Homo sapiens: one gene and its partners. The protein of the gene in region 2 interacts with the protein of the main gene of each other region in a pairwise test. Each region holds a gene or a part of one and is shown on either strand. Other genes may lie near its edges. The genes, in order: AKAP14, ROPN1, SPA17 and FAM153A.

Region 1 (7,020 bases), on a different chromosome or scaffold from region 2:
GCCAGGCGCGATGGCTCACACCTGTAATCCCAGCACTTTGGGAGACTGAGGTGGGTGGATCAGGAGGTCAGGAGTTCAAGACCAGCCTGGCCAAGATGGTGAAACCCCGTCTCTACTAAAAATACAAAAATTAGCTGGGCGTGGTGGCAGGTGCCTGTAATCCCAGCTACTCGGGAGGCTGAGGCAGCAGAATTGCTTGAACCCAGGAGGCGGAGGTTGCAGTGAGCGGAGATCGTGCCACTGCCCTCCAGCCTGGGTGACAGAACAAGACTCTGTCTCAAAAAAAAAAAAAAAAAAAGGAAGAAAGAAAATGTGAGAATAGGGCCCTACTGCTCTTTCTCAATCTTGGAGGGAGAAGAGCAGCACAGTTGAGAGCATGGGCTGTGAAGCCAGACACTGTGGGTGTACAGCTCAGTTTCCTCATTTTCACATGGCAGCAACAGGCCCTCTGTCTGTGACTCAGGGCTCCTGTAGGAAACTGTTGGCATATTAAAATGAGGATAGCTGTAGAAGGGTTAAGTAAGGGAATATTTACAAAGGTGTGGCCAGATTGCAGGGCAACAGAGGAAGGTGCAGCTCCCCGGGGCTAGTAACAGTGGGCCTAAAACGTTGAGGGGAGAGAATGCTTACCCTTACCACACTGGGAAGCTGGGAGAGCGCCACCCTGAAAGACGCTGGGGACTTCATGCAGCCAGCCATCAGCCAACTCGCAGGGAGAAAACCACCAGGGACATACATTTTGACTTCCTGATCTCCTTATTGTGTGGAACCCCCTAGAAGCCAGAGGGCACCATTTATGGGTGCAGTCAGGTTAGTTTTCCAGGGCAGGAAGCAGGAGGAGATGCAAGGACAGTGGATTTGGAAAGGCAAATGGAAGGTGCCCAGCGCACTCTTTCATAGGGCTGTGATGACAGTTAAATGAAACATAGCACATTAAACACCCCCAAATTGGGAGCTGTTATTTATAGAAAAATAGCTCCATTTGGAGAGAGATACCCACTTTCATGTAGCCCTTCCACTCAATGGAAGGATTGCTTGCAACATACTTATTTTTTATTTTTTGAGACAGCCTTGCTCTGTCACCAGGCTGGAGTGCAGCGACACAATCTCGGCTCACTGCAACCTCTGCCTCCCGGGTTCAAGCAATTCTCCTGCCTCAGCCTCACGAGTAGCTGGGATTACAGGTGCTGGCCACCATGCCAGTCCAACTTTTTTTTTTTTTGAGATGGAGTCTCACTCTCATTGCCCAGGCTGGAGTGCAATGGCGTGATCTGGGCTCACCACAACCTCCGCCTCCCAGATTCAAGCGATTCTCCTGCCTCAGCCTCCCGAGTAGCTGGGATTACAGGCACGTGCCACCACACCTGGCTAATTTTTGTATTTTTAGTAGAGACGGGGTTTTGCCTTGTTGGCCAGGCTGGTCTTGAACTCCTGACCTCAGGTGATCCACCCGCCTCGGCCTCCCAAAGAGCTGGGATTACAGGCATGAGCCACCAAACCTGGCCCAGGCCAATTTTTGTATTTTTAGTAGAGATGGGGTTTCTCCATGTTGGCCAGGCTAGTCTCAAACTCCTCACCTCAGGTGATCTAACCCCTTGGCCTCCCAAATTGCTGGGATTACAGGCGTGTGCCACCGTGCCTGGCCATGTTTTTTATTTTCTCTGAGACAGGGTCTCGCTCTGTCACCCAGACTGGAGTACAGTGGTGAGATCACGGCTCCCTGCAGCCTCGACCTCCCAGGCTCAAGTGATCCTCCTACATCAGCCTTGTGAGTAGAAAGCTGGGATTACAGGCACACATCACCATACCTGGCTAATTTTTTAAACTTTTGTAGAGATGGGGCCTTGCTATGTTGTCCAGGCTGATCTCAATCCCCTGCACTTAAGCGATCCTCCCACTTTGGCCTCCCGAAGTGCTGGGATTACAGGCCTGAGCCACTGCACCCGGCTGCCTGTAAGGAATTTAAAGCTGTGCTGGAAGTAAGCAATTTTTCATAAGCAAAGAGACTTAAACAGTAGCAAGAAAAGAAAGGATTTAAGACTCAAGGGAAAAGATGTAAAAAACATTGAAAATGAGGAAAGACTTCTAGCTCTGTGATGGAGCCATCTTTACAGCCCTAGTAACACAAATTTTCACATTGTCAATACATGTTAAAGGCATCTGGAAGATTATAGCTATCATTTATGATAAAAATCTTACTAGAACAGGAACAGACGAATGTTTTCTTGATGTGATACATCTCAAACCACAAACCAGCATCATACTAATGGTGTAACACCAGAAAGCAAGGCCATTAAAGTCAGACACAATAGGAGGATGCTCATTATTTCCACTTTCATTTTACATTTTTCTGGAAGTATTAACCAAAGCTAATACTCATAAGAGATATATACTCCTGGAAAAAAGATGATAAAAGTGACAGTTTATTGGAGATGATATAATTGTATACTGTACTGGAAAAACCCAAGAGAGAGAATTATGAAACCAATATTCCTCTGCTGTAATGCCTCTACTCATTTTAACACTATCTTTATAGGCCAGGTGTGGTGGCTCACACCTGTAATCCCAGCACTTTGGGAGTCCAAAGTGGGTGGATCACTTGAGGTCAGGAGTTCAAGACCAGCCTGGCCAACATGGTGAACCCCCGTCTCTACTAAAACTACAAAAAATTAGCCAGGCATGGTGGCACACGCCTGTAGTCCCAGCTACTCGGGAGGCTGAGACAGGAGAATCACTTGAATCCGGGAGGCGGAGGTTGCAGTGAGCCAAGATTGTGCCATTGCACTCCAGCCTGGGCGACAGAACGAAACTTTGTCTCAAAAAAAAAAAAAACACTATCTTAGCCGGCGCGCTGGCTCACGCCTGTAATCCCAGCACTTTGGGAGGCCGAGGCGGGTGGATCACCTGAGGTCAAGAGTTCGAGACCAGCCTGGCCAACTTGGAGAAACCCCATCTCTACTGAAAATACAAAATTAGCCGGGCGTGGTGGCGCATGCCTCCAATCCCAGCTACTCGGGAGGCTGAAGCAGGAGAATCACTTGAACCTGGATTCTCCCGGGAGGCGGAGGTTGCGGTGAGCCGAGATAGCGCCATTGCTCTCCAGCCTGGGCAACAAGAACAAAACTCTGACTCAAACAAACAAACAAACAAACAAAAAACAAAACACTGTCTTTATACTTTTTTTTTTTTTTTGAGATGTAGTCTCCCTCTGTAGCCCAGGCTGGAAGGCTGGAGTGCAGTGGTGCGATCTCGGCTCACAGCAACCTCTGCCTCCTGGGTCCCGGTTCAAGCAATTCTCCTGCCTCAGCCTCCTGTGTAGCTGGGATTACAGGCATGAGCCACCATGCCCAGCTAATTTTTGTATTTTTAGTAGAGACGAGGTTTCACCATGTTGGCCAGAGTGGTCTTCAACTCCTGACCTCGTGATATGCCTGCCTCAGGCTCCCAAAGTGCTGGGATTACAGGCGTGAGCCACCGCGCCGGGCCTTTATATTTCTTTTTAAAAGTTAAGACAGGTTGGGGAGTGGGGAGATCTCACTATGTTGCCCAGGCTGGTTTCAAACTCATAGCCTCAAACTGTCCCCCTGCTTCAGCCTCCTGAATAGCTGAGATTACAGGCACATGCCACCACACCCACTTCATTTTAACATCATTTTAAAAGAGCCAGGTGCCCTCAGTTGCTCCTAGCAGGGATTGGGTTTCTTATCAAAGATTCAACTTGGAATCAATATTGCTAGGCACTCCAAAGAAGTGCTACTTTTTTTCTACTACATTTTGATTTAAGTCATTATGGTGTTTTTTTTGTTTTTTGTTTTGTTTTTGAGATGGAGTTTTGCTCTTGTTGCCCAGGCTGGAGTGCAATGGCGCGATCTTGGCTCACTGCAACCTCCACCTCCCAGGTTCAAGCAATTGTCCTGCCTCAGCCTCCCAAGTAGCTGGGATTACAGGCGCCCGCCACCACACCCGGCAAATTTTGCATTTTTAGTAGAGACGGGGTTTCACCATGTTGGTCAGGCTGGTCTTGAACTCCTGACCTCAGGTGATCCGCCCGCCTCGGGCTCTCAAAGGGCTGGGATTACAGGCGTGAGCCACCGCGCCGGGCCTCATTATGATTTTGAGAATGTGAGAATCCTTGGTTTTCAGGAAAAGTAGATAGCAGCAGCCAGGCACAGGTCTGACTCCTACCCTTAAACCCCTAATCCCCTCCCTAGAGGCAATAACTGCTTCCTGTCTCTTGTGATTCTTCAAGAGATGATCTGTACTTATATGAGTGCGTTCACATGTGTGTACACACACAGGCACACAGTAACTTCTTTTTTTCCCCAGGAAAAAGAAAATGAGTGAGACTCAAAATTCAACAAGCCAGAAAGCAATGGATGAGGATAACAAAGCCGCAAGCCAAACAATGCCGAATACACAAGACAAGAACTACGAGGATGAATTGACTCAAGTAGCTCTAGCTCTGGTTGAGGATGTCATCAATTATGCTGTTAAGATTGTGGAAGGTAGTGATCCTGTTTGTTTGGATGCCTAAATAATTGTCTATATAGTCTAAATATAGCACCACACTACCTGGCAACTAACGAACTCACACCTTTTTTTTGCAGAGGAGCGAAACCCTTTGAAAAACATCAAGTGGATGACTCACGGTGAATTCACTGTGGAAAAGGGTCTTAAACAAATTGACGAATATTTTTCGGTAAGTTAGGCCGACCACTCCAGCATGGTACACCGGTGTGAAGAACAATAAAGAGACTCTCAGCAGATCAAAAGTTTGAAGTCTGGAAAATCTAGGAGATGGTATCAAAGGGGGCTGACTAGAATAAGTAAACATCATCTCCATCTCAGTTCCAAAATCAAGGTGGGATAGTCTTTGAAGGTGAAATGCACAATCACAATCATTTTCCCTGTGTCTGTATCATTCTAACCTTACATTTCCCTGGGAAAATCTGCTCTTCCTACTTAAGCAATTTGTCCATGCTGGTGCATTAAATGGGGGCCTAGTGGCCTAAGGAGGGAGATGCTCCTCCAAAATAGGAGTTCTCCACCACCATTATTTTGTTTATTTTTTTTAGAGACAGGGTCCCACTCTGTCACCGAGGCTGCAGTGCAGGGGCTCGATCCTAGCTCCCTGCAGCTTTGAACTCCTGGGCTCAAGCGATCTTCCCACCTCAGCCTTCCAAGTAGACAGGCACGTGTCACCACACCTGGCTAATTTTTAATTTTTTTTTGTAGAGACAGGGTCGTGCTATGTTGCTCAGGTTGGCCTCGAACTCCTGGCCTCAAGGGATCCTCCTGCCTTGGCCTCCCAAAGTGCTGGGATTACAGGTGTGAGCCATTGCACCCAGCCTCCACCACCAACTTTAGAATGCTCCTGTTAACAGAGGGGATGCAGATGGATCAAAAGACTTTTTGATTTGGCTTTGGAATATATTGCCTGCATAGTAAGATGTACAATCCCATGAATTCCTTTGTTCTTCTGCCTGTGTCTGACTCTGACTTCTTCGTGTGGCAGCTTTGCTGAGAAGGCCCTGGATTACTTTGCATAACTGGTGAGTGAATAAAGGAGAATGGCTTGGGCCAGGCGCAGTGGTTCACATCTGTAATCCCAGCACTTTGAAATACCAAGACGGGAGAATCAATCATTTGAGCCTAAGAGTTTGAGACAGCCTGGGCAACATAGTGGGACCCCATCTCTATAAAACTAAAAAATTAGGCCAGGCATAGTGGCTCACGCCTGTAAGCCCAGCACTTTGGGAGGCCGAAGTGGGCAGATCACAAGGTCAGGAGTTCAAGTCCAGCCTGGCCAATATGGTGAAACCCCGTCTCTATTAAAAATACAAAAATTAGCCAGGCGTGGTGCTGGGCGCCTGTAATCCCAGCTACTCGGGAGGCTGAGGCAGAAGAATCGCTTGAACCCAGGAGGCAGAGGTTGCAGTGAGCTGAGATTACACCACTGCATTCTCAATCCTGGGCGACAGAGCAAGACTCCGTCTCAAAAAATAATAATAATAATTAGCCGGGCGTGGTGGTATGCACGTATAGTTCCAGCTACTCAGGAGGCTGAGGTGGGAGGATCACTTGAGCCCAGGAGGTCGAGGCTGCAGTAAGCTGTGATTGTGCCACTGCACTCAGCCTGGGTGACAGAGTGAGACCCTGTCTCAAAAAAAAAAAAGGCTTGAAATCCTTCTCATTGTGCTTCTGTGGAACAGAGACCAGTTGAAATTGGTGGAGGCGAACTCCCCTACCCCTGGGAAAAGTTCCAGCTCTCTCTGTTCCCCAGGCCAGCACCTCAAAGCCTACAGCCCTCAGGGCAGTTTCCCAGGCCTTAGGAAGGCCTGGTCAGGTGTGAAGGAGGAAAAGTCAGGGATTTCTGGCTCCACGCCTTCTATGCTCCAGCGGACGCCACTCACCGTTCTCATTAGGAGGGGTATCTTGAGCATAGTGAAGATGAATGGTGCAAGTTATTCTTGAGCCTTCCTGCTGTGGAGCACTTCTCCATTTGGGGTTGGGCAAAGGCCCCTGCCTACTGCACTCAGGGTTCCTGAATCAAACTAGAATGGAACACATAGCAAGTAGGAAAAATTTCCCTTGCAAATCCCACTGGTCATTCTGAGTAAAAGGCAAAAGTAAGTCCTGACAATGGTCTACAAGGCCCAATATGATCTGAGTTCCCTTTCCCCTCCTGATTTATGGTTCAGCTCCCATCACTCCTTCCCCCCTCTCACCTTCTTCCCTCGGCCACACTTGCCTCCTTGCCGTTCCTCGACTGCCAGGCATGTTCCCCTGTCAGGACCCTTGCTCTTGCTGTTCCCTCTGCCTGGAACCCTCTCCCCTAAGATGTATACCCATGGCTCACTGCTTTACCTCCCTTCAGATCTTTGTTGAAAACTATCACCTGCTCATTGAGGCTTTTCTTGGCCACTTCATCTAAAATCACAACCCTCTCCACTTCTCTGATTCATTTTTCCCTTCGCACTTCTTTCTGCCTACTAGAGTCTATTTACTTGTCCTACTGCC
Region 2 (8,005 bases):
AGAGTAAGGAGAGAATTTCATGTAGGTAGAAGGACTTAGGCAAAGATGTGGGGTTGTCAGAAACGTGACAAGTTCAGGGAACTGTAATTATGGAGCTCTAAAGTGGACAAAGCAGGAGTGGTTGGGCCTAAGGCTGGAAATATAGCTCAAGGCTTGGGCTTTTGAACTTTTTGTTGAAGGCAATGGGGAACCACTAGAAAATTTAAGCACAAGAGTCACACAATCAGTGTTAGCTTTAGGTCCGGTTATCAATATTTGCCTCTCAGCTCCAAATTCACCTTGTATTGCCTCCTCCACAAAAATTGAACTAGGTCCTTTAACATTTTTTCCCTTGTCAGCTGTCATAAGGATATGCTTTGTTAGGACAGGGCACTGGAAGGACTGGAGGAGGAAGAGGTTTCTCTTAGGAATTTAGGTATGCTCTTCTTGCTAGGCTCCAGGAACTTGTAGTTTCTCCTATGCTGGGATCCTGTAGCACACAGCTTTTCTAGCATCTGTTTCATGCAGTGTGTGATCTTTTGAGTGCCCAACTGCTGGAGTACACAGTGGCTATCAGTGCTCCATGGCTAGCAGTGTCCCCTGGCACCTCTCTTGGGAAGCTCTATAGCAGAGTGCTGTCAGTGAGTTACCTTTTAGTGAATGGCTTCTCTGGTGTTTCAGAGAGTAAATTTTGCCTGCCTGGCACCTCAGCAATTTCTCTGCTCTCCAGTCAGCTGTGGCCATCCCCTATGCACCAAGCTCTGGGAAAGGTTTCTTCCTTGGGTGATCTATCTCAGGGGTAGTGGTTGCCCCTTATATCTGTGATTCCTGTATATTTTAGATCTCTCCTGACATATTAGCCAATCCTTCATTACTCCAATCCCATCATTAACAATTCTTTATATTGAACTTCTCTTGTTAAATTATATGCTCAAAAAATTACTATATGATTTATTTCTCTTTGTTGGACTCTGAAACACGTTGACTGACAGCTGTGTGGATGAGCTGAAGAGAGGATGGTGAAGCTTCAGGCAGGGAGCCAGGTTAGGAGAATATGGCAGCACTTTTGACAACTCCCAGGAGCTTCACTGCCTTGAAAAGTAGTTGCAATAGGGAGTGATATAAGAGACAAGTATTTAGGAGATAGGATCTACAGGATTTGGTAACTACTGAAGGAGGAGGAGGAGGAAGAAAAGAGGAGGTGGAGGAGGAGGAAGAAGAGAAGGTGGAGAAGGAGGAAGAGGTGAAGGACAGAAAAGTCTAGAGTGACTATCAGTTTTCAAGCTTGGATGACTGGGTGCACAGTGGTGGTACCCTTGTAGAAATAGAAAACACTAAAGGAGGGTCAGGTCAAATTATCCCCCCATGTTCCCATTTACTTTCAGGAGTTCCATGCACTTTTGAATCACAGAGTTGAAATCATAGACTCTCTGAGTTGAAGAGGCACCAAAGCCCAGCTTTCCTGCCTTTGGGCAATAAGGGTCATTTGTTCACATCAAAGAAGTGGGAGAAAGGTCCATTCTATCTTAACATTCCTCAATTCTAACATTTTGTAAAGTTATTTTCCATTTTTAAATCTCTTGATAGTGTAGGTCTTCTTCAATTATACATTCCAGAGCTTATCCATAACCCCAACTCTTTCAATTCAATGCATTTCCTCCTAAGTGAAACCTACATGCCTCTCAATGTAAAATGGAGGCCAACATATACCTGCCAAGTGCTGAAGAATGTAGGTCTTAAAATAGACTATAGCCTTGTTTCAGGGATCTCTCACTTGGTTTTATTGGTATGGGCTAAACAGGGCTTCCGTTTCATAAATGAAAGTCTCCAGTAACATGAATGAAAGGCTCCAGGGCAGAATCTCAGAGGGTTTCTATGAGTATCACTTGGAACCAAGCACAGGCAACTGCACATCCCTGTTTGGGTTTGGAATTGGAGATGGTGGGTTTGGGATGTGGTTACTCTTGTTTGGAATACATTCTCCTCCTCTTAACAGGTTGATTCTTCCTTTGGAGGTCTGCTTAACCTTCCCTGATTACCCTGTCAGTTCCATTGTACATACCCTTCCAGAGCATCACTTACCTATCCTTAGTGTGATTCTTTGAGTAACATGTGTCTCCCCCAGCAAACTCCACGGCAGGACTGGTCAGTTTTTGCTCACCACACCATCCCAGTGCCTAGCCCAGTGCCTGGAACTTAGTGTTCAATAGGTACTAGTAAAAATGAATGCGTGATAGCAGTCTATGAAGTGCTAGCTATAAAATGAACACGTGATAGGAGTCTATGAAGTGCTAGGTATAAAATAATGCGTGATAGGAGTCTATGAAGTGCTAGGTATAAAATAATATGTGATAGGAGTCTATGAAGTGCCAGGTATAAAATAATGCCTGACAGGAGTCTATGAAGTGCTAGGTATAAAATAATGTGTGATAGGAGTCTATGAAGTGCTAGGTATGCCCATGACATCCACATGACAATTCACCCAGAGGTATTTTTATATCCCTGTCGCTGATGAAAAAGCAGAGGTGTGGCTCCTCGGTGGAGGGCTCTGATTCCAAACTCTTGAGCCTCCCAACCACTGTCCTCCGGGTAAGAAACCGTATAATAGTATTCTGGGTACAAAATACGCACACAAATTGGCCAGAAAGCCATAATCCCCCACAGTCACATTCTCTTGAAGATCCCCTTGCCTTCCCCTTGCCCTGTGAACAAGGAGAGGCTCAGAATCCAGGGGGCGTCCGGCAGGGCTCCTCCCTCAGACCAGCGCAGCCCTCGGGGCGCTCAGAGCCCTGCCCTCCCTCCACTTCCCCTCGGGGTGGCTACCTCAGGCTCGCTCCCAAACCGGCTGTCTGGCTTCAGGCGACACCTGGCGCCTGGCCTCAGGCGAGAGGTGTGGGGAGAGACCGAGTGCCTCCCACCCTTCTTAAGAAGGAGAGCAGTAGAACCTCGGCGGGGAGGGCAGCAGCGGCCGGGGGTGACAGCAGCGGCGGGGCACGACCGCCGTTAGCGTTAGACGTTAGCGCTCCGCCTTCGCCTGGCAAACCCTGCGCGGGCTCCGCTGCCAGGTCACCAGGGGTAGCGCCGGGCGCGACGTCACAGAGCCGCCCCGCCTCTCCTGCAGCGGCGGGTTCCCAGGGTCCCGCTAGGGCGCTGCTAGGGGACGCTGAAAGCTGTTTTGGGCTTTGCTGGTGGTGGAAGGACCAGACGGCCTGGAGGGTTAAGGACTGGGCTGGGGACGTTAGGAAACCCGGGCTGGGGGCGTTGGGGGTGGGGCGGAATGTGTAGCCATTGACGGTGCGCTTTTGTAGGTGAGAGGGCAGAAGTGGAGCTTGATCTTTCGGCTTGTGGAAAGTGGACAGGTGAGAATTCCTCAGGAATCATAGTAACAACACTTCTTACAATGAGTTTTTGGTGCCAGGAATTGTTCTAAGTGCATTACACACATGAACTCATTTCATCCTTACTGTCACCCCATGAGGCAAGTACTATTGTTATCCCCATTTTTACAGATGAGGGAACTGAGCACAGAGAGGTTAAACTTGTCCAAGATGACAGTCAGCAAGTGACAGAGTCAGGATCTGAATCTGGGTTGCGTGGTCCCAGATTCCTCACTCTTGACCTTATAATGCTAAGAAAGGGGCATGGAGTGGATAGGAACAGAGCCTGAGATGCCTGGGGACAACAGGGAAAGATAGAAAATATTTATAGGGTAGAATGTGGTCACTGTGCCAGGGCACTTTTACAAACATGATGACATCAAAGTTTCACAGTAAACTCTGAAGGTAGGTATTACCTTCGCTTTGGAAATAAAAAACAGGCTCAAGGCTTCGAGTAATTTTGCCTGTGATCGAACAGCTGGCAGTAGGGCTCAGGGCCCAACTTTACTCCAGGTCTTCCGGTTTCAAGACTGTGTGTGTGTGTGTGTGTGTGTGTGTGTGTGTGTGTGTGTGTGTGTGTGTGTTTTGAGACAGGGTCTTGCTCTGTTGCCCAGGCTGGAGTGCAATGGGGTAATCATGACTCACTGCAGCCTCAATCTCCTAGGTCTAAGCAATCCTCCCACCTCAGCCTCCCAAGTAGCTGAGACTGCAGGTGCTTGCCACGATGACAGGCTAATTTTTATATTTTTATAAACGGGGTTTTGCCATGTTGCCCAGGCTGGTCTTGAATCCCTGGGCTCAAGTGATCCACCTGCCTTGGTCTCCCAAAGTATTGGGATTACAGGTTTGAGCTACCGCACCTGGTCTCAAGACTGTTCGTTTTAAGCACCCAAGGAGGCAAGAAAAGCCCCATCTTTCTCTGCTACATCCCGTGTCACTTCACACCTATTTTAAAGGGGCCCATTGCATCATCTAATCCTTCATTCCATTTATACAACAGTGTGTATTAGTCTAAATAGATTAGTTCACCCAGGCCCTTCAAAGCTTTCTCTGTTTGTGAGATGAAAGCCTTTGTCTCTCCCTAAAGCAATTTTAAGCATCAGTGAACAAGTGGGGGAACTAGATTTTTGGGTTACGCATGCAGAAAGCTTTTCACAGCCTGTTGTCATCCATTTGTAAAGAGGCCACTCTGCTGGCATTTGTCAAAATCCTGTAGGTCCTTGCACACCTGGAGAATCCTGGATGGTCTGGGGATGGCCACTGCCCACAGGGCAAGATCTGGGGATGAAAGAAACCTAGTCACTAGCTATCACCTGCCTTTCTGAGGCCTCTGTGGAGGGGCTGCCAGGTGTTGGTATAGGCACTTGACAAACAGGGTGTGCCTTAGGTTGGGAGGGGGAGGCTGGAGGCTTGAGGGCTGCAGGTGCATCTTCCAGGATAACAAGAATGCTCTGGCCACTGGGGTCTGTTCTGTTGTATGCACATGGGATAAAGGTGTGCCAATCTCTTCCTGCTTTCATGCAGAGTAAATAATGCTGACAGGAGTGAATAATAATGATCTTTGTGCAGAAGAAGGGGTTTTTCAGACAAAGCACTAGCAGCTAGAGATGGGAGATGAAACAGAATAGAATTTTAGTGTAGCAAGTTAAACACAAGGGAGGAATTTCATGGGACTGTCTGACTGAGGCGATTTGATGTCTGTCTGTAGGAGGCCAGGTTGAGAGGCCTAGGTTAGATTATCCTTGATCTGTTAGTCAATAAATATAACAGGATACAGTCAAGAGAATACAATTTTACAGGAAAATGATAATAACATAATTCAGGAAAGTTGCTTTCTTCTAAAACAGAGGTAAGAGTAGAGAGGGAGGAGCACATAGATGTTACTGGTAGTGGTCTAGTTTTGGGGTGGGTGATGGGTTCATGGGTGTTTATTATGTTTCAGTAAAAAATCTGTCTTAAATATTACAATAAAATCTTTTATTACATACAATCTTTTATCAAGTAGGTTACACTGTTTTCTGCTATTTTCTTGTACGAACGAATATTGACTATATCCTTTCTCATCATTTCCCTTTTTCTACTAGATAATTCCCATCAACATAAAAACATGCCTTCATCATTTTCCTCTTCAGCTTTGACCATTTTCTCTGCTTCCCTTTATTGCCAAGCTCTTTAAAAGAGTTGCCTATACCTGCCACCTCTAATTTCCCTCTTCCAAATCTCTTTTTAATATACTTGAACCAGGCTTTCATCCCCACCACTCTACTGAAATGACTTGTGTTAAAGTCCCCAATGACATGCTGTTAAATCCAAAATCATCTCTCAGCCTCGGCTCAACCTATCAGCAGCCTTTGACCCTGTTGATCACTTTCACATGCTTGAAACATTTTCTTTCCTTGGATTCCAGGACATTAGACTCTTGGTTTTTCTCCTTCCTCATTGGCTGTTCTTTCTCAGTCTCTTTTGCTTGTTCTTCCTCCTCTCCCTGGCACTTTAATCTTGGAGTGCCCTAGGATTTACACTTGGACTTCTCTATCTACATGCACTCTCTTTTTTATCTCATCCAGTTTCATGTTTTGGATACTACATTTATGTCTTCAGCCCTAATCCTTCCCTAAATACCACATTAGAACATCCAACTGTTTACTCTGCACCACTGGATGTCTATTAGGCTTCTCAGGCTTAATACACCCCAACTGCACTCTAAGATTCCTCTCCAAACCAGTTCCTCCAGGCTTCCTCATAGAGGCTAAAAACCTTGGCATTATCCTTGGCTGCTTTTTCTCTCACACCTTAAATCCAATCAGAGCAAATGCTATTGGCTGTATCTCCAAAAGTCATTCAGAATTGGAGCACTTCTCTCCACTTCCATCACCTTGGTCCAAGCAAACTTCATCTCTTACCCGGACCACTACAATGGCTTCCTAACCTGTCTCCCTGTTTCCGCCCTTCCCTTCCAGGGGTCTGTTCTCATCACAGCTGCAGGATCGAATTACTGAAAACCTAAGACTGATCATGTCATTCCTCTGTTTAGAACCCTCAGTGGCTCCCACCTTATGCAAGTAAAAGTCAAAATAACCCACAGGCCCTTAAACTCTCTGAACCCATCATTTTCTCTTTTCTCCTTCATCACTTCCCTCCAGCCATGCTGGCCATCTTATTATCCCTCAGAAAGGCCAGACCCTCTCCTGCCTCAAGACTTGTGCACTTGCATTTCATCTGCCTGGAACATGATTTCCTCAGGTATCCACAGGGTTCATTCCTTAGCACCTTCGGTTTTGTATCCAAATGTGACCTTCTAAGGGAGTCTTATCTGACTCTTTTAAGTTGAACACCAATATCCCTTCCAACTCCTCCCTTGCTTTATAATCATTACATACTATGTATTTTTAAATTTTTGTTTTATTGATTTCTCTATATTTTTTCACTGGAGTGCATGCGATTCTGTTTGTTTTAGTCACCGCTGTATTTCGAGAGCCTCGAACAGAACTGTGCACATAATGGGTACCATAAATATTTGTTTACTGAATTAAATTCTCCTTTTTTTTCTCTCCTTCCACCTTGTTTCCCCTTCCTTCCTTAAGAGGGCCTTCTGAAAAATGATACTTTAGTGTCCATTCAGCTTTGCATGTTCAGTATCTTAGGGACTAAAGTTCTATCTGGCCAAGTAACCATAGGTCTGGCACCAGAGAGTGGGAATCCTGACGGTCTTCTTACCATCTCAGCCTTATAATAAATATCAACTGTCTCATACTATCTCTGAGCTCAGAGAGTCAGTTCTCCCTATCCTATGTGGCTTATATTGTGGGTCACTTTCCCCAGATCTTAAATGTGCCATTTCATAGGAGGAAACGAGAGTGACCCTGTCCCACCTGCTGCTTGGATCATGGTGAGGCTGGGGCTGAGCAGTGATGATGGGTACACCATACTCAGGTTCAGCACAATTCTGTGATTTAGCTGTGGGGTGTGGTTGTTAGACTCCCCGTGGAGCCAGTCAACCCTGTGTACATAAACTCCTTTCACATATACATTTGTTTTCTTTTGCTGCATTGCAAATTACCACATACTTAGCAGCTTAAAACAACACAGATTTCTGATCTCAGTTTCCACAGGGCAGGAGTCTGAGTGGGTTAGCTGGGTCCTCCGCTAAGGGTCTTGCCCAGCTAAAATCCAAGTGTTGGCTAGGGCTGTGCTCTCATATGAGCCTTAGGGTCCTCTTCCATATTCATTGGTTGTTGACAAAATTCAGTTCCTTGGGGATGTAGGACTGAAGTCCCTATTTTCTTGCTGGATTTTGGTCAGGGATTGTTCTCAACTCATAGAAGCCACTTTCACGTCGTAGTTCCATGGCCCTGGAATGGCAGTTTACGACACTGATGTTTGCTTTCTTCCAGGCCAGCAGAGGCACCTGTTGTTGTTTCTTTTGTCTGTTTTTTAAGGCTTACTGGATTAGGTCAGATCCACCCAGGATAACCTCCCTTTTGACTAACTCAAAGTCAACTGATTAGGGACCTTAATTACATCTGAAAGTTCTCTTTTGCCACAGAATATTAATCACAGGAATGAAATCTCCTCATATTCATAGGTCTCACCCAGACTTACAGCGATGATGAGATTATACAGGGCATGTACACCAGGGGGTGGAAATG
Region 3 (7,883 bases), on a different chromosome or scaffold from region 2:
AGTTCAATGTTTCTCCTCTGTACCCCAAGACACCCCACATGTACCTTCATCATAGCATTCATCACGCTGTCCTATATAACTTGGTATCTATTCCCATTATTCTGTAAGTTCCTTGAGAACAGGAACTTTGACTCAGTCTTATTTTTGTTTGTATCCTCAGTGCCTAAGCACATGGCAAATATTCAAATAACTTTTATGGATGAATGGACAGACGGATGTAGGGACGGATGGATAATGTGAGCTACAGCATTAGCATTCATTTTCAGATAATCCAGCAGGTGGCAGAAGAGGGCAATAGCTGAACGGAAGATGGGCTGCCTTACCTTTCACACTGGTCACTTTCTTCATGATGGTTTCCTGACCTTGGCGCAGGGTCACGGTCACTGTGGCTCCAGGTGTACCGAAGCCCCATATCACTGCCCCAGCAGGCTCCTTCTGCAGCACCATATCATTATTGATGTATGAAGCAAAGCGAAAACCAATACCTAAAAAATTTAACAAACACTGAGGGAAGCATCATCGGAGAGATATAGCACCAACTGGATCAAGTGAAACAGCAAAGAACATACAGTCTTTATGCAAGAGAATTTTAACATACTAAGTCCCTTTAATCGTCTAAAACTGGCTCTTCTTCCTCCTAATTAGGCAAGCAACATAACAAGAACAGTTTCCAACAGTATGCATCATAGCACATGATGACCACTAAGGAAAATTCCCAGAGCCCAAGGCAACCAATGGACCATAGTCTTCCCTCTCCTTCAGAGCTCTTGATCTTTTTTTGCTCTTGGGCTTGGCCCTAACGCTGGGCTCTCTCCCGCAAAATCACTAAAATGCTCCTTTCATGCACCTATAGATGGTGTTTATGAGAAAAATAAACCACTTCCTTTCCCTACTTTCCATTACCACACCTGCTCCTAATGACTGGGAATAAAACAGCATGCCTCTCTCCAAACAGCCTTCCCTAATCTTTTTCCCCTTCTCTATCTCCCCTTTTCTATGCCACTAATGCCAATTTCCTTCAAATAATGCCCCTTATCATGGTTTTTTGACAACCCAGTGTACTGCATCAAAAATTCTAAATAAGCCCTTATAAATACTCATGACAAGTCAGCTTCCTTCTCAGGTAAATTCAAATAAATCAAGACACATAAATAAGGTCAGTGAGAGATAGAAGGTCAACATGTCTGAACAAAGGTCTTCTGTCACAATTTTACCCATTCCACAAGCTAAATTATACTAAAAGGACAAGAGAAAGCACACTAGAAACTGGATTCTATTCTAGAGAGTCACTAACAAGACTGAATAAGAACTCGCTTTAACGACATCATTCCTATTTTTAACATCCAGCCTATATAAAAGTATTTTATTAATACAAACATCCATCCAAATTATCTCAGCGTGTTCCTCATCAAAACTTAACAAGGAAAAAAATAAAACAAATTATATCCCAATTTATCTGAATAAAACAGACCCCAAACTACCTAAAATAATTAACAAAATTTAGATCTTTTTAAGCATTTTAAACAAAAATGATAGGCAGAAAAGAGAACCAGAATTAACAAGGCTGACATTTTCCTCCCTGGAAGCTACAAATGATGAGGGCCCCTTCGGCTATACTTAACAGGGCAGCACAGCTAATGGAGTCGCCTACACAGCTCCGTGGCCTATTTATCCTGCTCTTGGAATAACAGCCCAGTCCCTAAAAATCCTCAGCGCTCTCTTATGAGCTAGTGTGATCAAGAAACCTACATGACAATGAAAGATCACCCAGAAGGCCTACTGGGCTGGAGATGCACGGTTACCATGAGCAAAATGCTCTAAGAAAAGAATACAACGCCCCAGAATTGCATAAGCAGGTTGGCAGCCTGCTGGAGGGAAGGGGGAGGCACATGTGTGGGAGGGCCTTGTCTTGGGTAGGTGCTTCATATGGAACCAAAAAAAGGAAAACCACAGACATAAATAAGAGCTAAGTAGAGAGAGGGTGGGGGTAGGGGAATGGCTGCAGCTTGCACATTTGTGTGCAGTCAGTAGTCCATAGGCTAGGGGAAATACCTTCCCAAGTCTGTCTGTTTTCACCAACATACACTTAGTGAACATCTTTGTGGATGACTCTGTGCTGGGCTAAAGAGTTTTAGAGGTGGAAAGGATCTTCATAATCGTAGTATAAACACGCTACTTACTGATCAAGAAGTATAATCATATTACTGATCAAGTAACTGAGACCAAAGCAGATGAAACAATTTTTTAAAATAGCTTGCATGTTCATTAGTTAATTCAACAAATATTTATTGATGCCTACTATTTTAAGCATTGGGGATATAACGATGAAAAAATAATAATAATAATAGCAGGCAAAAATCCTTGCCCACAGGGAGCTTCCATTCTACTAGAGACTTTACCTGTGGCAGGCACAGTGCTAAACACACCACAAACATTAATGTTCTTTGGTCTCAAATCACACAGTTTATGACAAGTTAGAAAACAAGTCACTTGATTCCAAAGTTGAAATTCCCACTTTGCCGAAATTAGATACTTGTGGCAAATCAAAGAAAAAATCATATTCCTCATCTTTGTAAAGTTTAAATTCTAAGTTCATTAGAGTAGACAGTGGAACATCAAGGAATTGTGCAATGGACAAAAAAAAAGAGAGAGAGAATGAGAAAGAGAGCAAGGCTGGTCATTCCTTGTGCCAAACACAAGACACATACATTTACCATTTGATTTCTTGTTTGTTTGTTTTTTTGAGACAGAGTCTTGCTCTGTCACCCAGGCTGGAGTGCAGTGGTGCGATCTCAGCTCACTGCAACCTCCGCCTCTGGGGTTCAAGCGGTTCTCCTGCCTCAGCCTCCCGAGTAGCTGAGATTACAGGCATGTGCCACCACACCTGGCTAATTCTTTTTTTTTTTTTTTTTGATATCTTTAGTAGAGACGGGGTTTCACTACGTTGGCCAGGCTGGTCTCGAACTCCTGACCTCATGATCTGCCCACCTTGGCCTCCCAAAGTGCTGGGATTACAAGCATGAGCCACCGCGCCTGGCCAATTTTTTTGTATTTTTAGTAGAGACGGGGTTTCGCCATGTTGGCCAGGCTGGTCTTGAACTCCTGACTCTAAGTGATCCGCCCACCTCAGCCTCCCAAAGTGCTGGGATTAAAGGTGTGAGCCAACATTTGGATTTTTTAGGTCTTCAGTTTTTTCCTTCATTTGGGGCTGGAGTAGAAAAACAGGAATTAGTGTTATGGGGAAGAGAGGGCAGTGGTTGCCTCTGGTGAGGAGCTCCGGATGCATTGGCGAGGAGCACAATGGCAGGCTCAATAGACTGGCAATGTTCTAGTTCTTAAGTTGGGTACTGCTCTCATGGGTGTTCATTTTATTGTGTCATTGTTACATATAATTTTGTACATCTCAAGCATTACATGGTAAACATGGGCACAGGGAGAATGACTTAAAGGAAAAACGTCAGGATACGCAACCAAGTAGAGTACTAATGAATGAAAAATGTGATCAATGTTAATGAAGGTGATGTAACAATAAGACCCAAAGGAGGAGATAAAATACTGACACTAAAATAAACAGCCTTTAACTGAAAACCTAATAAAATATCTTTTCCCCACCTCATAAGATGGATCTCAAAGGTCACTGAGTGGAGATAAGAGTCAGGAAATGGCATACAGAGTGCTAGCATTTTGCACTTTTGTTAGACTCTGAACAATCATTTATGGGCTGCAGTTTGTCTGAATCTAGGTACTTTTCCGGCTCTCAGGTAGAGCAGGAGTCATTTTTCTGCACGCTGTTCTCCTACCCCAACTATCATTTCTTAACAGGGATCTCTGGGGTCCACTCTTTGAGTGTTTTGAAACAGAAAGGAAGAAATCCAACATTATCACTTTAGTTTGCATTATCAGACAGATTGCACCTTCTGCTTTCTCCATACTGTGACCCAGTGTCCAGCCTAGGGTATTCGAATGGCAAGATCTGACCTGCGCAACAGCCAAAGGGAGCCACCAGCCTCCCCTATGCCACTCACATTTTCCCACCACCAATATCTGTAAGCGGTACCAGAAATCAAAACTGAGCCTTAAATAGTCAGAGCTAGTGAGGGGGTTGTATTTCTTAGCCCTGATAACCACTTAAACGAGTAAAATTTAATTCCCCTAAGGAACCCCGCCTGAAGCAAACCCTCCCCAAGGGCACCACTGAGGGGGTAGCGCTGAAATGTTTTGGAAGATTCAGTCACCTGTTTCCAAATATTACCTAACTAGCTTCGCCTCCTTCCCTCCGAGCTCCCCTGCAGTTACTCCAGGACCCCGAAGGCCTCTTTCTGGGCACATTTGGGCCTCCCCACTCAGACAAGCCGCACTTTCTCCCTGCTCACAGGCTGCATGTCAGGGATGGTAAGTGGGGGGTGGAGAAAGTGGAGAGGCCGGGGTTCAACCCAGCAGACTCCTGCAGACCGGGCCTCGGTCGGAGACGCGAGCCCCTAGCCTAGCTAGGTTCCTTCGTCGACCTTGAGAAAGGGGCGCGGATCCGTGTCCCGCAGAGGACACGGGGTCTCGGAGCCCGCACAGGCTGAGGGGCAGGGGTCCGGCCGAGCCGGGCCGCCTCACCTGCACTTCTGTCGGCCCACAGGATTAATGGCAGCACCAGCCCGAGTACAAGCCCCGGCGCGACCATGCTTGCAAGGATCTGACCGCCGCCTAGGACTGGGAAAGTGGGTTCCCGGCAGGGGCGGGGCCTGGGCGGGGGCGAGGCCGACTCCACCCTTTTGCAGTCCTCGCAGCCTCCCGCGACCTCAGGACTGGGCTGTACTCGCCCCTTCTCGGCCGCCGTAGTTTTTTTTTTTTTTTAAAGAAAAAACGGTTACCCAGCAACTAGAAAAACAACCGGAACCGGCGGCACCAGCTCGGAGAGAAAGGAGGTGAGGCCGCTTCCCCACTTCCTCTCCGATACCAAGACCTAGCCTTTTCCCTTCGTCTCTCTTATTCTCTCAGCATCCCAGACACAGCCTCGGAGCCCTGGGCCGTTTGGGAGCCGAGGCAGCCCATTCTGCGCGAGTCTGAAATCCCAGGTCCTCAACATCCCGCCCCCGACTAGACCCGTCTGCCCCCTCCGCCCGCCCTCCTCTGCCCACATTGGTTCAGAATCTCGCCAGCTCTTTTCACCACTCTAGAATGGTTCGATACCCCCATCTACTGCTCCCTCAGAAAAAGCAAAAGAGAGGAGTCAGGCGTGGTGGCGCGCGCCTGTAATCCCAATTGCTCGGGAGGCTGAGGCGGGATCATCGCTGGAGCCCAGGAGTTCGAGGCCAGAGACCCCCTCTCAAAGAAAAAAAAAGCGATGAAACGAGAACCCTCCATAGTCTGAGCCTCATTAAACCGTCCAGTTCTCCCAACCTGGACCCCTACCACGGCCTCCGCCTCTATTCCGCATTGACGCACACTCTCACATTAACAGGCCAGGTCCCGGAGGATTCTTTTCATACTCAGTAGTAGCTCAGCCCGCTGCTTAGCAGCTACCCTTAATCTAGCCCTTGTATTTCAAGACAGAAAGAGACAACCTGATCAAGAAGAAACCGAAAAATATAAGAATTCTAAAACTTTAGAGGCTGGGATTTCAAAATCATGACACACAGCCCCATCCCATCCCATCCCTCCCTCACACACACGCACGCACAACCCCATTCCACAGTACGAAGGTGTTCGAAGCATTGTGGGTCATGCTTCAGAAGTGGCAGCAAGGGGAAAGATTGTGCAACTTCTTCATTCAACAAATTAATTTCTAGAACCAGGACTAATTTCTACTCTTTAAAAAAAAATAGACCTCAAAGAAGGTCTTCTCAGCAATTGACAATGAATTTAACTTTTTAGCAATCATTCTCTCTAAATTCCTGTGTGATAGCAAAAATTACCCTTACCTTTTGAGCATATAAAGGGTAAAGAGAGAAAAAGTCATATTGAAAATTATGGGTTTTTTGCAGGATTTTAAATGATTTGGCCTAGTGAATGGGTCTGTGTTTGTATTATACTAATTCACAATGGAGATTTCAAAACTCTTTGGAAGAAATGGATGGGCTTGGGTTGTGTTAGGGAAAAAAGAATTCAAGTCCAGATGTATGAGTCTCAGAAATAATTTGTTGGCATAGTTGTGATTATATAAGTAAAATCAGACAAATTTAAAGACAGTACTCTTTAATGAATCTTTAGGTTCCATAGGCAGTTCTTACCAAGAAGATGTCGATTCCATTCTCCAACACCCACTACCGAATTCCACAAGGATTTGGGAATCTTCTTGAAGGGCTGACACGCGAGATTCTGAGAGAGCAACCGGACAATATACCAGCTTTTGCAGCAGCCTATTTTGAGAGCCTTCTAGAGAAAAGAGAGAGTAAGCTTTCTAAAATTAGTCATTTTTTAAAATAAGAAACTAAGCATTTGTTTATGGTAAAACTTGCTTAAGACCATCTCCATTCTGCAGAAAGCCTTTTATGAGGCAGGGAGTTTCAGATAACAGTTCTTGCTCTTTGAAACAGTATGTACCTCTTTGATATGTTCTCTTAAATTCGTTTCATATTATCGAAGATTACCAGTTCATTATTCAGACCGTCTTCATTGTATTTCTCACGGACATACAGCGTGGAAGGTAACTGCAAAAGAGCATACATTTCTCGGGAGAAATCAGTGGGGGAAAAAAAGATCATACAGTCTACCCTCGCCACGTTCCAGCATACTGTTCCTATGCATCCCTGGCAGCTGACTGTTATTCCTGAGATGAGTATCTGTGGTTTCCTTTCAATTTTGATTCCTTCCATTTGAAAGTATTTTAAGTACTGCAAAAAGAATTCTGCACTCTTTAAATAAACTGATATTCACTGGGGTATATGAAACTGTTCTGCAATAACGGCACAGACAAACTGATTTGAAAGGTGGAATACCAGTTTGGAAAGGTAATTTATATTCTTTATGCTAAATTCCATCCTGCACAGAGACCCAGATGCCCACTAACAATAACTATTTGGTTGAAAGCCAAGGCAAAATTCCTTCACTCCTATAAATAAAATTTACAAATCCCCAACCTTGAAGGTTTATGACTGTCAGGACTTTACCAGTTTTGTACTAAAAACCTATCCTAAGCCAGGCATGGTGGTGCGCACCTTTAGTACCAGCTACTCAGGGGCTGAGGCAGGAGGATCACTTGAGCCCAGGGATTCAAGACGGTAGTGAGCTATGATTAAACCTGTGAATAGCCACTGCACTCCATCCTGGGCACTCCCACGACCCCTGCCCCAACCCCTGGAAAGCCATTGTTGATTAGAACATCCATTTTGTATAAATTCTTGTCATCATTACTTTTTATTACAGTATTCTAACAGAGTGGTAAAGGTGACTAGAAATAGGCACAAGCAAACAAACATTCTATTGTAATCATTTTATAGTGGAAGAAAACCTAGCACAAGGGTAGAATTAAAACAACTCCCACACACACTGCATAGCTCCACCCCTTGCTTTTTTTGCCCTGCCCTAGCAGAGCTCAAAATCTCTGCCAATTTCCTGAATGTTGCTGGTCTTTTCCATATCCGGTCAGGGTGAATATCTGTTGCACAATCTGAAACTTTAAATATTTTCCACTGAAAACATTTGATAAACTATATTTAGAAGAGGAACGTTATTAAGAGAAATCATTTGGCAATAGACTTGGGGGCCTATGTGAGAGCAGAGGTAGGAGGAGGGTGAGGATTGAAAAACTACCTATCAGGCATTATGCTGATTACCTTGGTGACAAAATTGTCTCTACACCAAAGCCCCTTAACACAGAGTTTAACCATGTAACAAATCTGCACGTGTATCCCTTGAACCTAAAATAAAAGTTGGAAGGGGAAAAAACTAAA
Region 4 (7,550 bases), on a different chromosome or scaffold from region 2:
ATATAATATATGGTGCTGGGAAAACTGGCTAGCCATATGTAGAAAGCTGAAACTGGATCCCTTCCTTACACCTTTTACAAAAATTAATTCAAGATGCATTAAAGACTTAAATGTTAGACCTAAAACCATAAAAACCCTAGAAGAAAACCTAGGCAATACCATTCAGGACATAGGCATGGGCAAGGGCTTCATGTCTAAAACACCAAAAGCAATGGCAACAAAAGCCAAAATTGACAAATGGGATCTAATTGAACTAAAGAGCTCCTTCTGCACAGCAAAAAAAACTACCGTCAGAGTGAAGAGGCAACCTACAGAATGGGAGAAAATTTTTGCAATCTACTCACCTGACTAAAGGGCTGATACCCAGAATCTACAAAGAACTCAAACAAATTTACAAGAAAAAAATCAAACAACCTCATCAAAAGTAGGCGAAGGATATGAACAGACACTTCTCAAAAGAAGACATTTATGCAGCCAACAGACACATGAAAAAATGGTCATCATCACTGGCCATCAGAGAAATGCAAATCAAAACCACGATGAGATACCATCTTACACCAGTTAGAATGGTGATCATTAAAAAGTCAGGAAACGACAGGTGCTGGAGAGGATGTGGAGAAATAGGAACACTTACACTGTTGGTGGGACTGTAAACTAGTTCAACCATTGTGGAAGAGAGAGTGGCGATTCCTCAGGGATCTAGAACTAGAAATACCATTTGACCCAGCCATTCCATTACTGAGTATATACCCAGAGGATTATAAGTCATGTTGCTATAAAGACATGCACACGTATGTTTATTGTGGCACTATTCACAATAGCAAAGACTTGGAACCAACCCAAATGTCCAACAATGATAGACTGGATTAAGAAAATGTGGCACATATACACCATGGAATACTATGCAGCCATAAAAAATGATGAGTTCATGTCCTTTGTAGGGACATGGATGAAGCTGGAAACCATCATTCTCAACAAACTCTCGGAAGGACAAAAAACCAAACACTGCATGTTCTCACTCATAGGTGGGAATTGAACAATGAGAACACATGCACACAGGAAGGGGAGCATCGCAGACCAGGGCCTGTTGTGGGGTGGGGGGAGGGATAGCATTAGGAGATATACCTAATGTAAATGATGAGTTAATGGGTGCAGCACACCAACATGGCACATGTATACATATGTAACAAACCTGCACGTTGTGCACATGTACCCTAGAACTTAAAGTATAATAAAAAATATATATATATAAATTTTATTGGGACTATTTTGATTCTACACCACTATTCTTTATTGGGTGTAACCCAGCAGGTCCACGAATAATAATAATTATTATTATTACCTTTTTTTTTGAGATGGAGTGTCACTCTTGTCACCTGGGCTAGAGTGCAGATGCGCAAAAGAGTGAGACTCTGTCTCAAAATAAATAAATAAAATAAAAACAGGAAAATACATTTGTTGACCTCCTGGGTTGTGCCCAATAAAGAATAGTGGAGTTTAATAGCGGTTCACTGCAACCTCCACCTCCCAGCTTAAAGCGATTCTTCTCCCTCAGTCTCCCAAGTAGCTGGGATTACGGCACCCACCACCATACTCAGCTAATTTTTGTATTTTTAGTAGAGACAGGGTTTCACCATGTTGGCCAGGCTGGTCTCAAACTCCTGACTTCAGGTGATCCGCCCACATTGTCCTCCCAAAGTGCTAGATTACAGGCGTGAACCACCACGTCCGGCCTAACAAATGATTTTTCATAGGTCACTGGACATCAAGGAGCCACTTGTGAACCAGGTGGAATGCAGGTGGGATGCATAGCACATGGCCCACAGGACCTGCACTGTGGGTTGGATACAGTAACGGAAGGGGCCTTTGGTCTTTCTTTTTTTTTTTTTTTTTTTGAGAGAGAGTCTTGCTCTGTTCCCCAGGCTGGAGTGCAGTGGCGTGATCTCGGCTCACTGCAAACTGCGCCTCCCGGGTTCACGCCATTCTCCTGCCTCAGCCTCCAGAGTAGCTGCTGGGACTACAGGCGCCCACCACCACGCCTGGCTAATTTTTTGTATTTTTAGTTGAGACGGGGTTTCACCGTGTTAGCCAGGATGGTTTCGATCTCCTGACCTCGTGATCCACCCGCCTCGGCCTCCCAAAGTGCTGGGATTACAGGCGTGAGCCACCGCGCCTGGCAAGGGACTTTGGTCTTTCTTGCTTGGGGCTGGGATGAGTGTGTACTTGTGAGAAGAAGGAGGCACAAGGCAGATTGGGTGGCCACAGCTGTAACCTGGAGCCACAGAGCAGGCTTCTGTTACACACTATTCTTCTTTTCTTCACTTTAACAGAACCATCCCTTGAGGTTTAGCTGGGGGCACCTGGCTGCCCAGCTACAGACTAGATTTTCCAGACTAATTTATATCAATTTTCTTTATTCCTTTAAAAGTTGTTTATTTATTGCACTTACATACTAAGATACCATTCTCAAAGGACCACGAAAGCAGAAATGGTTAATATATGAAGCTGTCTATAGGCATGATAGAATAAAAAGTTTAAAAATTATTTGGGTCAGGCTTAAATAACTTTAACAGGTTAAAAAAAGTGTTTGACAATATTCAACAAATAATTCTTCACCTAATTTCTTATTGAAGCAATCACCTTAATATTCATTGGCCTTGATAAATGTGAACACTGGTCATATTTATGTAAATAATGGTCATGTGGCTTTCTTGGCATATCTAAATTCATGTTAGATCTGGCTTAACCTGTGCTTATGTATGTATATGTTACAGTTATGTACATTAAATGTGTGTGTAAGAGTTGGAATTATTTGAAAGATAGCAAAATTTTAACTAGAAAAAATAAGTTAATATCTAATAATAGTTGACTTGTTGATTAAAATAAGTAGTTATTATGAAAGAGAAAAAAGGTGATTTCAAATTGATTCAGAAGAACTGGCCTAGCAACTAAGATTGTATGCTTTCCTTTTTTTTTAAAAAAAAAAAGAACGGATATAATGTTATGTGACAATTAAATACAGAAATTACAAAACTAGTTAAATTGATGTTGCCATTAAAGCAACATTAAATAGTTTTGGGGGAGAAGAAAGAAGCCGAGAAGATGGTATCTGTGCAGTTAAGATGGTCATGTCATTTGATACATGTAAACAGAAAGCAGCCTGAGGCCCACACCTGCACCATGCTGAAAGAGCTGACCAGCGTTATATGTTCAGTCCTAGATGAAATGCTGCATTTGTTTTTTAAACACTGGTATGCATTGTTTTAAAAATGTATAAAATAACAGTGAAAAGTTAAAGAATCGTAAGAATGTAGCTAAAGGTAAAAAAAATTTGCAAAGCCATAATTTTTATGATGAAACAATATATTTTTTATCTTTTACGTATAATGTTTTAATGCTTTTTTAGCCCAATGAAATGTGGAAGTGTTTTGTGATTTTTATCTTACTATAGTGATTGTTTTATAAACAAAGAAAAAATTAATTCAGGATTGCAGATATGGTAAACTATTAAAATAGTTTGGGTATTAAAATATGAAATAATTGGGTATTAATTCAAAATCCAAGAGTTGCCATTGAACAAACCTGTAGGCATAGGTAAGTGCTGAGGTGAAAGTGCCAACCAAAGCCGTTAGATTGAACATTTATGCCTGGAGGGAATCAGTAGAGGAACTGGCTGTGGACCTTCACCTCTGCATCCCCTTTGCTTTCTGCTGTAGCTGGGTATCACAAAAACAACAACAAAAGCCACTTATTTCTTAAAGACAGAGAAAGGATAGTTCCTTCCATTTAGGCATTCCTAAATTGCCTCCCCGGTGGCCCCTGCGCTCTTGGAGGAGGTCAAGGCAGAGCAGACCCTCAGGTGGGGGAGCGATGCACTTGACCCTGAGGACATCAGGTACCAGGCCCACTAGCCCCCGCAGGCGCGGAGCTGCGGCTGCAGCCACCAGCCTAGACGTGGCGCGCCCGCAGCAAGTGGCTGGACACCGCAGACCAGGCCCGCGTCCCCAGCAGCGCGGATCCCGGGGCCAGCCGCCCAGGCAGCAAAGTCAGGCGGTCGGCTTCGCCAGCAGCCGATGAGTCTCATCCTGTGGATTGCCCAGCGCCAGGGATCAGGATCCGGAGAGGTGTCCAGGAGGAGCAGACCCTCAGACCAGGTAGGCTGTGCACTCAGTGACCCTGACGCCATCCAAGGGAAGCTCCGCCATCCCGCGCCAGTGCCAGAGCTGCAACTGCAAACTGCGCGTCCTGGCACGAGCAGCGGTGGGGGCGGGTGGGGGAAGGAGCGAGTGACTCTCCAGGCGTCTTCCGCTACCTGACACCAGCCAGGCAGCCCCCAGGGCCAGAGCGTCAGCGCCGAAGCCAGGCTCATCCGGGAAGCCACTCCGGTGGCCGCGGGGTGCCCATGCCAGCACCAGATCTCTCTTCGGAAGGAGGAGCGGGGCGGGCTACACGGCCAGGCGGGCCCTCCCCTTAAGGCGGGGTGGGCCGCGCGCCTGCGATTTTCCGTCCGTGGTCCTGGGGCAGCCCTGGCCAGCCCAGGAGAACCCGCGAGCCCAGCGGCGCCTGCACCTGCGGCTTCCGGGAGCCGGGCGGCTTTGCGAGGCTCACTAGGTCTGAGAGGTCGGAGGCCGCCAGTGTCGCTGCTGAAGGGTGGACCAGGCGGGATCGCGGATTCTGGGCTAGATCGCAGACTTGGTATCGCGGATTGGGATTTGGATCGGGGATTTTGAGTTGGATCACGGATTGGGGGTTGGATCACGGATTGGGGTTTGGATCGCGGATTGGGGGTTGGATAGGGGATTTGGAGTTGGATTGGGGATTTGGGGCTGGGTGTGGGGCGAGGGGGAGTGAAAAGGTGACACGGAGCTGCCGCGGCTCAGGAGCCAGTGGTTGGGGGTCTGAGAAGAACTCACCACCTTGAAGAAGTTCTTCGGCTTTGGGAGCCGCAGGGGCCGGCGGTCCGGGGCTCCCTAGGCCACGTCTACAGGGGTTCGGGGTACCGAATCGGAAGATCCACAGGGCGCTGTCAAGGGCGAAGCCGCGGAAGTGGAGCGCTGCCTGGCGCGCAGGAGCAGAGACCTGGAAGCCGGGGACAGGCAGCACAGGCAGTGGGGTGGGGGCTCAGCCCAGGGTGGGAGGGGGTCCCCAGGCCCGGCTTCCCCGCAGCCCCTGGGATGGGGCCTCAGAGGGCACCCTCAGAGGGGTGGTGCCAAACGGAGCCTCAGCTGCTCTGCATCCCCCATAATTCCCCAGCTGGAGCGCTTGGTGGAGAATGTGAGTGATTTAACTCACCAAGCTAAGCATACACAGTGTTATTTTTAACCTACACGTTTAAAACATGGTGTTATATACATTATAGGAGGTGCCTAATGAGAGAACTCATTCCTCTATCAAAAAATACCGTGAGTCGGCCGGGCGCGGTGGCTCAGGCCTGTAATCCCAGCACTTTGGGAGGCCGAGGCGGGCGGATCACCAGGTCAAGAGATCGAGACCATCCTGGCTAACACGGTGAAACCCCGTCTCTACTAAAAATACAAAAAAAAAAAAAAAAATTAGCCGGGCGTGGTGGCGGGCGCCTGTAGTCCCAGCTACTCGGGAGGCTGAGGCAGGAGAATGGCGTGAACCCGGGAGGCGCAGCTTGCAGTGAGCCGAGATGGCGCCACTGCACTCCAGCCTGGGCGACAGAGCGAGACTCCGTCTCCAAAAAAGAAAAACAAACAAACAAACAAAAAACCGTGAGTCATTTTCAGTAGCGAAAAGCTCTCACCTAAAACTGTCCGTTTTACATCCGTATCCACCTGTGTAGATCGGTTCTTTACTGAAGGTTCTTAGAAGGAAACTTGGAAGTGGGAGGTGGGTTCTGTGTTCCTGAATGGGAAGACACATTTTTCTCAAAATGTGAGCTCTTTCTGTGATTATCAATTTTACATAAGCCGAATGAAAAAATCAAGGTTTTAACATTTTTGCATGACACCTACTGTCTTTTACTATTGTAATGACATTTGTAAAAATTTTAGGGCTGGGCGCGGTGGCTCAGGCCTGTAATCCCAGCACTTTGGGAGGCCGAGGTGGGCGGATCACGAGGTCAGGAGATTGAGATTGAGACCATCCTGGCAAACACGGTGAAACCCTGTCTGTACTAAAAATACAAAAAAAAAAAAAAAAAAAAAAAATAGCCGGGCGTGGTGGTGGGCGCCCATAGTCCCAGCTACTCCGGAGGCTGAGGCAGGAGAATGCTGTGAACCCGGGAGGGGGAGCTTGCAGTGAGCCGCCATCCAGAAGTGCTGGGATTACAGGTGTGAGCCACCGCGCCCGGCCTGAAAAGTGCATCTTCATTTTACAGGGAATTCTTTCAAATCAAATAATCAAAAACTGTAAAAGGGGGCAAAGTACTTTTTTGCAGATCTACAAGTTTCTTATGTAAATAGGAAAAAAAGCCTTTGCTTTTCTGGTATAAGAATTTAAATTAAAAGAGGAATGAAACTGTTTTCTATCCACAATGTGTGAGGATGTTTTTTATACTGCTGCCTGAAGTTTAAGTTGCTGATTACTTTTTAAATAGATAATTTGGTGGTAAGTACTATATTTTAAAAATGCGTATGCCCGTTACCCTTCAATTCCATTATACTAAAATACCCTTGGGAAATAGAGATACATGCACTTTGTTTTTCACAGCACTTATTTTAAAAAGAACCCATAGAATGGATCTTATAAGTAAATTTCAGTTGCATCCATAGGATGCAATAATATGTGACCATCAAAGGTGACAATAGATATAGAAGTACGTTGATGTGCGAAGATGTATTTTGTTTTAGCCAGCGAGGAAAAAAGAATCAGTTTGATTACACATTTACCAAACATTAAGAATTTAATATGGTAACTTTTATTTCAGTATTAAAATAGCAATTTTATTTATTACTTTTTTATATACAGAATTCGACACCAAATTTTGGAACTTAAAAAGAAGATTCTTAAAACTTACAATCCAGGTAAGACTTCTGATAGTGAATTTCTCATTTCTCATGGTGGTCCTACTCTTGGTTTAAAAAAATTAAGATGTAAGATTAAGGTAGTTTTGAAGGAAAAGAAAAGTTTAAAAAGATGTGTAAATTGCATGTATATATACATATATACATACATGTAAATTAGTTTCTTATATTTAACTTCTTTAGTTTGGAATTAAGAGTTATTTAAGAAGGTAGTTGTAGCTGATTTATAATCTCAAACAGTATTATCTGAAAAAAAATCATTTACTTAATTATGATCCCGAAAATCCTATATAATATTTATGTTTTCTCTATAGTCACATTGTAACAAATTGGACTTGTTATACATATGGATCTTCTAGTTCATTTTTGTAATAAGTTGTTTATTTTTATAATAAATTGTTTATATTTAGTAAATACATAATTACACTTGACCCATGAATAATGTGGGGGTTAGGGGCTCTGATTCCAGTGCAGCTGAAAATCTAAGTATAACTTTTGATTTTCCCAATTTAGCTACTAATAGCCCACTATTGACTGGAAGCCTTCCTGATAACATAAACG

What was found.
Region 1: the proteins of ROPN1 (region 2) and AKAP14 interact in binary tests that used the Homo sapiens proteins (3 or more experiments, as listed by UniProt).
Region 3: the proteins of ROPN1 (region 2) and SPA17 interact in binary tests that used the Homo sapiens proteins (3 or more experiments, as listed by UniProt).
Region 4: the proteins of ROPN1 (region 2) and FAM153A interact in binary tests that used the Homo sapiens proteins (3 or more experiments, as listed by UniProt).

Annotation. Positions count from the first base shown.
Region 1 is NC_000023.11:119,898,888-119,905,907, forward strand, and holds part of AKAP14 (A-kinase anchor protein 14), read left to right. Parts: intron 1-4,326; 5' UTR 4,327-4,336; coding exon 4,337-4,505; intron 4,506-4,607; coding exon 4,608-4,699; coding exon of another isoform or gene 4,700-4,708; exon of another isoform or gene 4,709-4,772; intron 4,773-7,020. UniProt on the Homo sapiens protein: Binds to type II regulatory subunits of protein kinase A and anchors/targets them.
Region 2 is NC_000003.12:123,989,120-123,997,124, forward strand, and holds the start of ROPN1 (ropporin-1A), read right to left. Parts: upstream 3,006-8,005; 5' UTR 2,803-3,005; intron 2,240-2,802; exon of another isoform or gene 2,062-2,239; intron 1-2,061. UniProt on the Homo sapiens protein: Important for male fertility. With ROPN1L, involved in fibrous sheath integrity and sperm motility, plays a role in PKA-dependent signaling processes required for spermatozoa capacitation.
Region 3 is NC_000011.10:124,669,037-124,676,919, forward strand, and holds the start of SPA17 (sperm surface protein Sp17), read left to right. Parts: upstream 1-4,867; 5' UTR 4,868-4,916; exon of another isoform or gene 4,917-5,066; intron 5,067-5,157; exon of another isoform or gene 5,158-5,457; intron 5,458-6,201; 5' UTR 6,202-6,228; coding exon 6,229-6,382; intron 6,383-6,388; exon of another isoform or gene 6,389-6,526; intron 6,527-6,534; exon of another isoform or gene 6,535-7,069; intron 7,070-7,148; exon of another isoform or gene 7,149-7,267; intron 7,268-7,883. Other genes in the region: SIAE (sialate O-acetylesterase isoform 1 precursor), read right to left, coding at 324-485, 4,606-4,672. UniProt on the Homo sapiens protein: Sperm surface zona pellucida binding protein. Helps to bind spermatozoa to the zona pellucida with high affinity. Might function in binding zona pellucida and carbohydrates.
Region 4 is NC_000005.10:177,779,888-177,787,437, reverse strand, and holds the start of FAM153A (protein FAM153A), read left to right. Parts: upstream 1-4,538; 5' UTR 4,539-4,695; intron 4,696-6,933; 5' UTR 6,934-6,989; intron 6,990-7,550.